Homo sapiens: one gene and its partners. The protein of the gene in region 2 purifies or fractionates together with the protein of the main gene of each other region. This does not show direct contact. Each region holds a gene or a part of one and is shown on either strand. Other genes may lie near its edges. The genes, in order: CTTNBP2, STK24 and SLMAP.

Region 1 (3,653 bases), on a different chromosome or scaffold from region 2:
ATGTACCTAGAGAGGTGAATTTAATATTTTGCATGTCAGTGATACAGCCTTTGCATTGTGATGGTGAACTTTCAAGTTGATTTCATTGCTTTTCCTTTTTGATAGCCCTTATTCATCCCCAAAGCATAAATCTTGCTTACATAGAAAGTTCTAAATGCATTATTATTGGCATGCACTATTAAACTGGGAGGAAAATACATTTCTCTAACTTCTGAGCAAAGAGGCAAAATCAGTTTTCCTCAAGTACCTCACAAACGCTTTTAGGCTCAGGAAATGACCTAAATGAATTTCCTCAGTCCAGTAATCCAGTTACCCTGATGGTACATGAAATCAGGACATTTAGGGGATGGGGGAGATTTAAGAGATCACTTACTCCAGCATCCTTATTTTTACTGATGGAAAACCTGAGATTCAAACAGATGAAATGATTTGCCCTACTTTGCTGATTCTTCCCTAGCCACATTGCTCATCACCCCACCTTCCAGTCTGCCTGCTTTCTCCTGTGTAAAGCTTACTGATGGAAAATAGGCACAACCTGCTGGATTTTAAATTGGAAGAGAGGCTCTTGGTGTTGGTGGGAAGAGCCAGAGAAAGTGCCTGAGTTTGTGTTTGGTCACCAACATATCCCCCAGCAGCCCTGATAGGACGGATGTGTTTGAGGAAAGATCTGAGGGGTGTCTCTGCCATTGTGGCTCATAATGTCTCCTGAAGGCATTCTGATAATCAATCACTGTTGGTTGGTTCCACTAATTCTAAAAGGGTATGGGTAAGACTTTTCTGTTAATATTTAGCTGTATCTATTGAATTCCCCACATAAACCTAGTGTTTTAGATTTGGGGAGGGGGAAACTTGGTATTGGCCTGTGTTCAATTCTGGAAATTTAAGATGAGTTTACTCAGCCAGGGTCTGTTTTGTCTATTCTGTCTCTTTCTCTCTTTCTCAGCCTGTATGAGAAAAAATCCTGAAGAATGCCCTCCCCACGCTTGCGCCAAGTAATTCAGAGCTGTTCAAAACTACAGTGTTGAACAGTTGAGTTTGGGATTATTTCTCCTTTTCCATTTATACATAATATACTATATATATGTATATATTATATATATAATTATATAAGTATACTTTTTAATTTTAAATAAATTATATATAATAAATTGTAATATACAATAGATTAACATACAATAAATTAATATATATGACTTGTATCCTAAACAAGACATACTTTGATGACCAGATTCTGGATTAGTTGAAGCTGCCATGCCAGATTTTTAAAACTAGGTGTTAAGCACTTTTTCTGGAATGCTTTTCCTGGCAAATGTAACAGGCAGAAGAGTGGCCTGTGGAATTGAAATCTGTTTTTCTATTTTTTCTTTTCTTTTTTTTTTTTTTTTTTTGGAGATGGAGTCTTGTTCTGTCACCAGGCTGGAGTGGCACGATCTCTGCTCACTGCAACCTCTGCCTCCTGGGTTCAAGCAATTCTCCCACCTACAGCCTCCATAGTAGCTGGGACTACAGGTGCATGCCACCATGCCTGGCTAATTTTTTTTCTTTTTTTTTTTTGTATTTTAGTAGAGACGGGGTTTCACCATGTTGCCCAGGCTGGTCTTGAACTCCTGAGCTCAGGCAATCTGCCGGCCTTGGCCTCCCAAAGTGCTAGGATTACAGGCGTGAGCCACCGTGCCTGGCACAGGTCTGGTTTTACTTTGTTTTTAGTTTCTTTTCATCACTAAAAAATAGCTGGATTTTTCTTTTTTAATTGGGAAAAGCAAGTTCAATAGTAAACTTTAGTCTGCGAACATGTCTGCTGTGATTTTTTTCTGGGGGGCGTTGGGGATTTGGGGGTCATGTTTTCATGGTGCCCTGATAGAGACCTTAATTTTTTTGTGTGAGTGGCAGCATTTGAATCTGTCCTGTCTTCTATCCAATTTGAAAATTAGATTATCAAGGCAATCTTTTATAAACATTATATGACTTAAAATAGTTCGTTTGGCTCTTAAACCAAGAAACTTTAATATTTTTTCTATATCTAAGTACTTTTGTACCATATGCATCTAAGATTAATGCCACTTCATATATATATGAATATATATGAATATATATTGAATGAATATATATGAATATATATTGAATGAATATATATGAATATATATTGAATGAATATATATGAATATATATTGAATGAATATATATGAATATATATTGAATGAATATATATGAATATAGAATGAATATATATGAATATATATTGAATGAATATATATGAATATAGAATGAATATATATGAATATATATTGAATGAATATATATGAATATATATTGAATGAATATATATGAATATATGTATATATGAATATATATGAATATATGAATATATATGAATATATATAAATATATGAATATATATTCATACATCTAGATATATGAATATATATATTCTAACAAAAATGTAGTTTTTGTTAGAATTTTTGCTTCTGGGGTTATTTTTCTAAAAATGCTAAAGTGCTTTATATTTATAAAATACTTGGAGTCTTAAGATCTCCAGCATCTTTTCATGCACAGTACTTTTTTTAACCCTGTTTTGCCAGAATAGAATTGGAAATAAAAGTTGTTGACAATTTGAAAATATTATTATTATATTTGTACTATGGAAGGCCAGGAATTAGTAGAGAAATTTTACTATGACTAGTAGTGGAGAAGTGGGGGTGGAGTCATAGAGGGAAGAGAGACAAGCAGACAGATGCACTGTATGTTTCAAACAGTACATCACTTCATATGTTGTGATGGGAGACAGATTTATTTTTAACATTCTGTGTGACATAATCTATGGTTTAGCAAGAATGCTTGTACCAATATTTTTTATTTTAATGAATTTCCCTCTTTATTGATGGTAATACATAGAAAAACAGAAGTTTTAGCTGTAGGTCACATGTGTTGCTGCTACTGATGGAAGCAGGGCAGGCTCTCCTGACTCTAATATGAATCAGGATCTTGGCAATGTCTTTCATAATTTATTAGTTTTTAAAATGGAGCACTTTGCTTATAAAGCTTTGGAGAAACAAGACAATAAAATATACAATTAATTAAAATCTTTAGAGCAACCAGCAGCATCATTAATAAAGCATTACACTCTAAAGCACATAAGAATTGCAGCTTACTCTCCCATCTCAGTGGGAAAAACCAGGATAAAAGAGCCTGTCTTTCATCATAGTGAATAAACTGAGTTTATTGGACTTGGGCTGGTAGATTTTCAAAGAAATAGGCTCCTGGCCAATACCCCATTCCTCTCTACATGAAACATCTGGGTTAATAATAACAATCGCCTGCCTTCATTTGGCACTTACTTCATTGATATGTTCTTGTTTAATCCTCACAAGAATGCAGGGTAGACGTTAGGAATTCCATTATACAGATGAGAAAACAGAGGATGGCATGAGTTACAGAAGTGCTCCTCACCATGTAGTCCGTGGACCAGCAACATCAGCAGGAGCTTGTTAGAAGGGCAGATTCACAGCCCCACCTCGGACTCACTGAATCACAATTTCCAGGGGTGGAGCCCCGTGGCTTGTTTTTTCACAAGGTCTTCAGGTGATTCTTATGCATGCCAATGTTTGAGAACAATTAGTTTATAAGACCTTATGGACACTACTGTGTAGTAGGAG
Region 2 (3,653 bases):
CCAGAGATGGGCTCCCAGGGAGGTGGGGGAGGTGTTCTCCGGGAGGAGGAGGAGGGTGGGCATGCACACACTGGCACGCCAGGGAGTTGTGGAACCACCTCCCGATGGTCTCTTCTCTGTGAGGGAGGAGGCGGGGGGGTCTTTGGGAAATCCCAGAGGGACTGGACAAGGGTGTGATGGGTGGGGACTTGGGGCTGGTGGGTGTGGGTTTAGAGGTCCCCAGGCGGCCTCCCCCTGAACGTCCCAGCGCCCCCAGAGCAGGTGTGCGAGCACTGATGGGATTTCCTGCATTTCTGTGTTAAGGGAAACAGATGGCCAAGCCTCGGGGGGCAGTGATTCTGGGGACTGGATCTTCACAATCCGAGAAAAAGATCCCAAGAATCTCGAGAATGGAGCTCTTCAGCCATCGGACTTGGACAGAAATAAGGTACGTCTGCTCACTCCAGAATGGCCACGCTGACCTCAGTCTGCAGTGTTTTGGAGGCACTTGTGTGTGAAGCTTGCTGTGGGTGCGGCTGGGGTCCTTTGTGGCAGCTGTCCTGGAATTTTGTTGCTAGGGGATGGGCAGATGAAGAGCTTTAGTTCTGTCTGATGATCCAGGTGTTCACACCAGGGAGTCTGGCCTCTGGTCTGTTTTGTGCCACTCTATTCTGCTCTCTGCAGCCCTGCTGTTGAGTTAGGATGTCCCGATGTGGCAATGTCATGGGGTTTGGGGGTGACCCGTGAAATGACTTCATAGCTCTGAGGGACTGTTGTGCATGTTGCGGTTACTTACATACATATCATAATTTTGTGACTGAGTTTTAAGGACCTTATAAGTAAATGCATTGCTTTTGATATTTATGTAAAACAATTTTGATTAATTGGTTTTATGCCTGTTAAATTTATGAAAGGCCATATATTTAGGGTCTTGTAAAGCATAGTGGTGTAGTTTCTTTCAGGCAGGGTGGGCCAGTGGCTGTCCCCTGTTGATCCTACAAGTCCCGCTTTGATAAGTGAACAGGTGTTAAATGTCCAAATAGAGGTTGCAAAAGTAGAAACTCGGTCTCTGTCCTAGACAGCCATTGGAATGGCCAATCTTGACCTGATTTCTATTTCCAGGGTTTCATTAGTAAAGTACTTTTCTCTCTCTCTCTCTCTCTCTCTTTTTTTTTTTTGAGACGGGGTCTCTGTTGCCCAGGCTGGAGTGCAGTGGTGCCATCAGAGCTCACTGTAGCCTCAAACTCCTGGGCTCAAGTGATCCTCCCACCTCAGCCTCCTGAGTAACTGGGATTGCAGGCATGTGACATCACGCCCAGTTTATTTAAAACTTTTTTTTTTTTTAATAGAAACATGGTCTCACTATGTTGCCCAAGCTGGTCTCGAACTCTTGGGCTCAAGTGATCCTCCTGCTTCGGCTTCCCAAAGTGTTGGAATGACAGGCATGAGCCACCACGCCCAACCAGTAAAGCACTTCTGCGTAGATAGCAAGACGAGGCAGTTCACCGCCTGTGCCCACACAGAGTCCCCTTCCACATGGAACCCAGATGCTGGTTTCCCCGGTGCGTGGGTTTTGCATGTCACTGCAGATGAAACTTTGAAGTCTAGTGAGAGGCAGCCGATAGTCTCCTTCAGATGTTATGGTGCGCAGAGGGTGTTTCCTCAGCGTGAAGTGTAGAGGCAACTCCTGCGCTTCCATAGTCCAGGTGGGAGGTTTATTAAATTATTGCCAATGTGAACGTCAACTGTTTCTGATGACCTTTTTTTCCCTCTCCCCCAAGATGAAAGACATCCCGAAGAGGCCTTTCTCTCAGTGTTTATCTACAATTATTTCTCCTCTGTTTGCAGAGGTAGGTACCTGGCTGGCCTTTTCGGAGTGGGAGGGGAGGGGGAAGGAGAAGCTGGACACACTTCAGTGGTGATGTTGCCAGTTAAGAGTTGGGGACATTAAGACAAGCTGGCAAAGGCTCGGAAAGCCTGCATGGTGCCTTCCCAAAGGCTGTCAGCACCACCTTGCGCCTCCCCTGTCCTGGGTGATGCCCACTCCGCCGCAGCCTGGAATGTGTAGACTGGATGACAGTGACCCAGCCCGAGACCCTGTGTCACCCGTTGCCCTGCTTTTTAGCAAATCTCATTGTGTACAGCCTGCTCTCTTTGCCTCAGACCAATTTCTGGCCATGTGAAAAGTAGATTCTTTCTTCTAAGGAGACGTTGGATGCCCTGGAGTCCTCCGGTTTCCCCTGAGCCACATGTTTCACTGAAGTCCCTCCTCTGCTCAGCAGTGCTGTGCTCCCAGCTGGGCCTCCCCACGCCCACTCCCTGCTCAGCCTCTCCCTCCCAGAGGAAAGTGCTCCCGTGGCCGTGTTTTGAGAGATTTTCAAAAGTAGGCTTTATAAGAATGAAGATTGTTCTGCATCTGGTTAGTAGCGGATTTGAAAATAAGTTGGAAGTCCCCTCTTTTCTTGTTGTGCCCCTTCCTGGCTGAGGCTGCCTTTGAGGTACTCACTGTGGGCCACACACGCATCTGTTTGCGTGGGGATCTTCCCTCTTTGGGCAGTTTTCCACTGCGGCTGTGTTTAGGGGTCCTGGTCCTTGAAGGGGAGGTGCTCAGGAGAGGAAGTGTCATAGGAGCTCATTCTCCTCCCCTGTGCCTGCGTCACGCAGCGGGGGACCCCCGGCCATGGGCCGTGCCTGGCCAGCCACGGTCCTGCCAGTGCCTCTTCCCAGCCCTCCAATAAGCCTTCACCTGTTGCCCTGCCCAGCAGGTGCCCTGGAGGGTTTGTCTGAGGGCCTCTGACCTGGCAAGTTCAGGGCCCGGTGGGAGCAGGGCTGTGGCCAGAGCCCGAGGCCTCACCTGCAGCTTCAAGTGGGAAGTAGCCGAGCCCGCTGGTGTCGGGGAAGCCACAGGGCACGCGGAGGCCCTGCTGGATGATGTCTGGCTTCAGCCCTGGCTCATGGTTCTGGGCACCTGTGTTCTTCCTAACTAGGATGTCCGGGTTGAGCGCCATCCTGCGCTTCATTTTGTCCCATGGGAGTTGGCCCCGTGGGATTTCCAGGCTGTGCTCCTGCGGCCCTGCCATTGGCCGCTGGAATAGGGTCAGTCAGGCAGTTAGGGAAAGTGCATGGACTTTTTCATTCTCCTGAGGCTGTTTATTTTTTTACTGGGCCCATGAAGCAACTTTGACATAATTATTCAGGACATATCCTAAACGCCGTCATATCCTGGATTTTCCAGGTAACCAATTGCTAAACTCACAGGCATCTTTCCCAATGTATTTTTAAGAATGATATTTGCTACCCTAGAGTTCAGAGTGTTTATTGTGTATTATTTCATACAATACTTGTAGAAGCCCAGTAGAAGGATTATATCCCCATGCTTACAGATGAGGACATTGAGGAGACGGGTGTTGGCGTCCCTGCTTTCCTTCAGGGAGCACAGGTCAGGTTGCTCCCTGAAGTCAGTGATGGGTCCAGCACGTTCCACACGGCAAGGGGACAGGCCCTCTCCCAGGGCGGCCCTTCTGCCGCCTTTGCTCCTTCTTTGAGACTTAGGGGCGGGGCATGGGCAGGAGGGAGAGTGCTGGATTGTAGCTGACCCTCTCGGGACTTGTAAATACTGTCAAGTGATTGGGAGTCCTAGACAAACACGAGTGGCCGCCTCGGGGCCGGCGGCG
Region 3 (3,653 bases), on a different chromosome or scaffold from region 2:
AAATACTTCATAGATTACTCGTAATCCTTTTTTTTTTTTTTTGAGACAGATTTTTGCTCCTGTCACCCAGGCTGGAGTGCAGTGGCGCTATCTCAGATCACTGCAACCTCTGCCTCCCGGGTTCAAGTGATTCTCCTGCCTCAGCCTCCAAAGTAGCTGGTATTACAGGCACACGCCACCATGCCTGGTTAATTTTGTATTTTTAGTAGAGACAGGGTTTCACCATGTTGGCCAGGCGGTCTTGAACTCCTGACCTCAGTTGATCCACCTGCCTCAACCTCCCAAAGTGCTGGGATTACAGGCGTGAGCCACTGCACCTGGCCCTCATAATTCTTTAAAATGAATATTCATAGAACTCATTTTTCCAGCAGTTGAATTCAAACATCAGTTTACTACTAAGTAGTGCCTTAACTCAACCAGCTTTTACATTTTCACCATTTTATGTTCTTGGGCAACAGGTCTAAACTAATCAGACAACAGGTTGGCTCACAGTACATACTCTGCGAATGCACTTTCTTTGATGAAACACTCGAAGGGGACTCCCATTTTTTGTTTTACTTATTTGAAAAATACTGATTTCATGCCCAGTGCTTTCCATGGCTGTACTAAAACTCTCACAATAGGTTATTTTGAGATAACTAAGAATAGGTCAGTAGTGACTGTTTCATGAATTGAGATGACATGTTAATATTTGTTTTTTTTCTTTGAGATGGAGTCTCGCTCTGTGGCCAGGCTAGAGTGCAGTGGCGCAACCTCAGCTCACTGCAACGTCTGCCTCCTGGGTTCAAGCGATTCTTGTGTCTTAGCCTCCTGAGTAGCTGGGATCACAGGCGCATGCCACCATGCCCAGCTAATTTTTATATTCTTCGTAGATACTGGGTTTCACCATGTTGGCCAGGGTGGTCTTGAACGCCTGACCTCAAGTGATCCACCCTCCTCGGCCTCCCAAAGTGCTGGAATTACAGGCATAAGCCACCACACCCGGCCATGAAATTAGTTCTTCAGAAAAACTTATCTTTGAATGGTAGATATGGCTTATTTCTACCATTTTCACTTTTTTCCTCCTGCTTTATTAGCTAAAATAACACGCAGGCTATGAGACCACTACTTTAGATATAGATGTAATTATTGATTATTATACCACTTAATCTAGTTATAGCGGATGCTCTGTCAGATCTTACCATGTCATTGAATTGTTTTAGGAATTAACTATTTAAAGTTTTGGTTTGGACAGATAGTAGGTTTTAATTGAGCATCTATTATGTGCCAGACACTGTGAGGGATACAGTTCCAAAGAAAACCCACAGTGCGACCAAATAGTTCTCGTATGAAATTTGCAGTGTCTGTAGTCCCACCTACTCGGGATGCTGAGGCACGAGGGTTGCTTGAGCCCAGGAGTTTGAGGTTGCAGTGCTGTGATTATGCCACTGCACTCCAGCCTGGGTATCAAAGCAAGACCCTGTCTCTTAAAAAAAAAAAAAGAATCCCTTCAGAGAAGGAGTTTCGTTCTTGTTGCCCAGGCTGGAGTGCAATGGCGCGATCTTGGCTCACCACATCCTCTCCCTCCTGGGTTCAAGTGATTCTCCTGCCTCAGCTTCCCGAGTAGCTGGGACTACAGGCATGCGCCACCACGCGTGGCTAATTTTGAGTTTTTAGTAGAGACAGGGTTTCTCCATGTTGGTCAGGCTGGTCTTGAACTCCCAACCTCAGGTGATCCACCCACCTCAGCCTCCCAAAGTGCTGGGATTACAGGCATGAGCCACCGCGCCCGGCCAGGTTTTTTTTTTTTTTTAAACATCTGGGGATGATAATGGTACCTATTATTGTTTTGAGAATTGAGGTAATTATATAAATCACTTAGCACCCTGTCCCTGGCTCTTACTAAGCACCCAATACTCAGCAGAGAGGGTGTTTAGTGGGGAAGAGGGAACTATTTAGACAACACTGTGCAATTTGCTATAGTGCTATGGAGTCTTAGGAAGGTGATGAGAAATTATTTTCTTTAATGTGATGGCATATATAGAATAAATTTTGTTTTTGTTTTTGTTTTTTGTTTTTTTGAGACGGAGTCTGGCTCTGTCACCCAGGCTGGAGTGCAGTGGTGCGATCTCAGCTCACTGCAACCTATACCTTCTGGATTCAAGAGATTCTCCTACCTCAGCTTCTCAAGTAGCTGAGATTACAGGCATTCATCACCATGCCTGGCTAATTTTTGTATTTTTAGTGGAGACAGGGTTTCACCATGTTGGCCAGGCTGGTCTCAAACTCCTGACCTCAGGTGATCCACTTGCCTCGGCCTCCCAAAGTGCTAGGATTACAGGCATGAGCCACTGTGCTTGGCCAGAAGAAATTTTTAAAATTGAAACTGATGTAGTTGATAACTTTGTCTAAATTGGCAGTTTACCTGGGCGGTCGACAATTGGGGTAATATGTGCTTTGGGTGACTTTCACTTTGTGGTGACTGTTGCATTCTGCATTGTCCATTATGGGAGGCTCATTAAAAGTTGGAAGAAGGCCGGGCGCGGTGGCTCACGCCTGTAATCCCAGCACTTTGGGAGGCCGAGGCGGGTGGATCATGAGGTCAGGAGATCGAGACCATCCTGGCTAACAAGGTGAAACCCCGTCTCTACTAAAAATACAAAAAATTAGCCGGGCGCGGTGGCGGGCGCCTGTAGTCCCAGCTACTCGGGAGGCTGAGGCAGGAGAATGGCGTGAACCCGGGAAGCGGAGCTTGCAGTGAGCCGAGATTGCGCCACTGCAGTCCGCAGTCCGGCCTGGGCGACAGAGCGAGACTCCGTCTCAAAAAAAAAAAAAAAAAAAAAGTTGGAAGAAATAGGCCAGGCTTGGTGGCTCATGCCTGTAATCCAGCACTTGGGGAGGCTGAGGCAGACGGATCACGAGGTTAGGAGATCGAGATCATCCTGGCTAACACGGTGAAACCCTGTCTCTACGAAAAATACAAAAAATTAGCTGGGCATGGTGGCATGTGCCTGCAATCCCAGCTACTCGGGAAGGCTGAGGCAGGAGAATTGCTTGAACCCGGGAGGCGGAGGTTGCAGTGAGCTGAGATCGCGCCACTGCACTCCAGCCTGGGTGACAATGTGAGACTCTGTCTCAAAAAAAAAAAAAAAGTTGGAAGAAATAATAAACACTTGAAACTTTATGATTATTCAAATGATACATGTTCATTTTAGAATATCTGCAAAATGTAGGCAGGTGGAAATCTAAGTGACACTTTTTAATGCTAAGCTCATGGAATATCTTATTGTATAATACTTAAATCTGCATGTTGAAGGGTGACAGGTTTGGCACAAAGCAGAGTTTCATAATCTTTACCAAATCATCTTCTCAGTAATGTAGCAGTTGGATATTGCCTTGTTGGATGCTGGCCCTGTGTATTATCCTTCATCCTTTTCGGAAGTCAAGCTCTTCAAATTAGATGGCAGATAGTAGAATGGTTTTTTTTTTTTTTTTTTTTTTTGAGCCGGAGTCTTGCCCTGTCTCCCAGGCTGGAGTGCAGTGGCGCAATCTCGGCTCACTGCAACCTCTCCCTCCTGGGTTCAAGTGATTCTTCTGCCTCAGCTTCCCAAGTAGCTGGGATTACAGGCATGAGCCACCATGCCCAGATGCCTGGCTAATTTTTTGTATTTTTA

Evidence for each region.
Region 1: the proteins of STK24 (region 2) and CTTNBP2 purify together in Homo sapiens (affinity purification with mass spectrometry; 3 studies listed by BioGRID and IntAct, with this or other methods). This does not show direct contact.
Region 3: the proteins of STK24 (region 2) and SLMAP purify together in Homo sapiens (affinity purification with mass spectrometry; 6 studies listed by BioGRID and IntAct, with this or other methods). This does not show direct contact.

Annotation. Positions count from the first base shown.
Region 1 is NC_000007.14:117,863,407-117,867,059, reverse strand, and holds part of CTTNBP2 (cortactin-binding protein 2), read left to right. Parts: intron 1-2,487; exon of another isoform or gene 2,488-3,653. UniProt on the Homo sapiens protein: Regulates the dendritic spine distribution of CTTN/cortactin in hippocampal neurons, and thus controls dendritic spinogenesis and dendritic spine maintenance.
Region 2 is NC_000013.11:98,458,548-98,462,200, reverse strand, and holds part of STK24 (serine/threonine-protein kinase 24 isoform b precursor), read left to right. Parts: intron 1-303; coding exon 304-427; intron 428-1,760; coding exon 1,761-1,829; intron 1,830-3,653. UniProt on the Homo sapiens protein: Serine/threonine-protein kinase that acts on both serine and threonine residues and promotes apoptosis in response to stress stimuli and caspase activation.
Region 3 is NC_000003.12:57,759,253-57,762,905, forward strand, and holds part of SLMAP (sarcolemmal membrane-associated protein), read left to right. Parts: intron 1-3,653. UniProt on the Homo sapiens protein: Associates with the striatin-interacting phosphatase and kinase (STRIPAK) core complex, forming the extended (SIKE1:SLMAP)STRIPAK complex.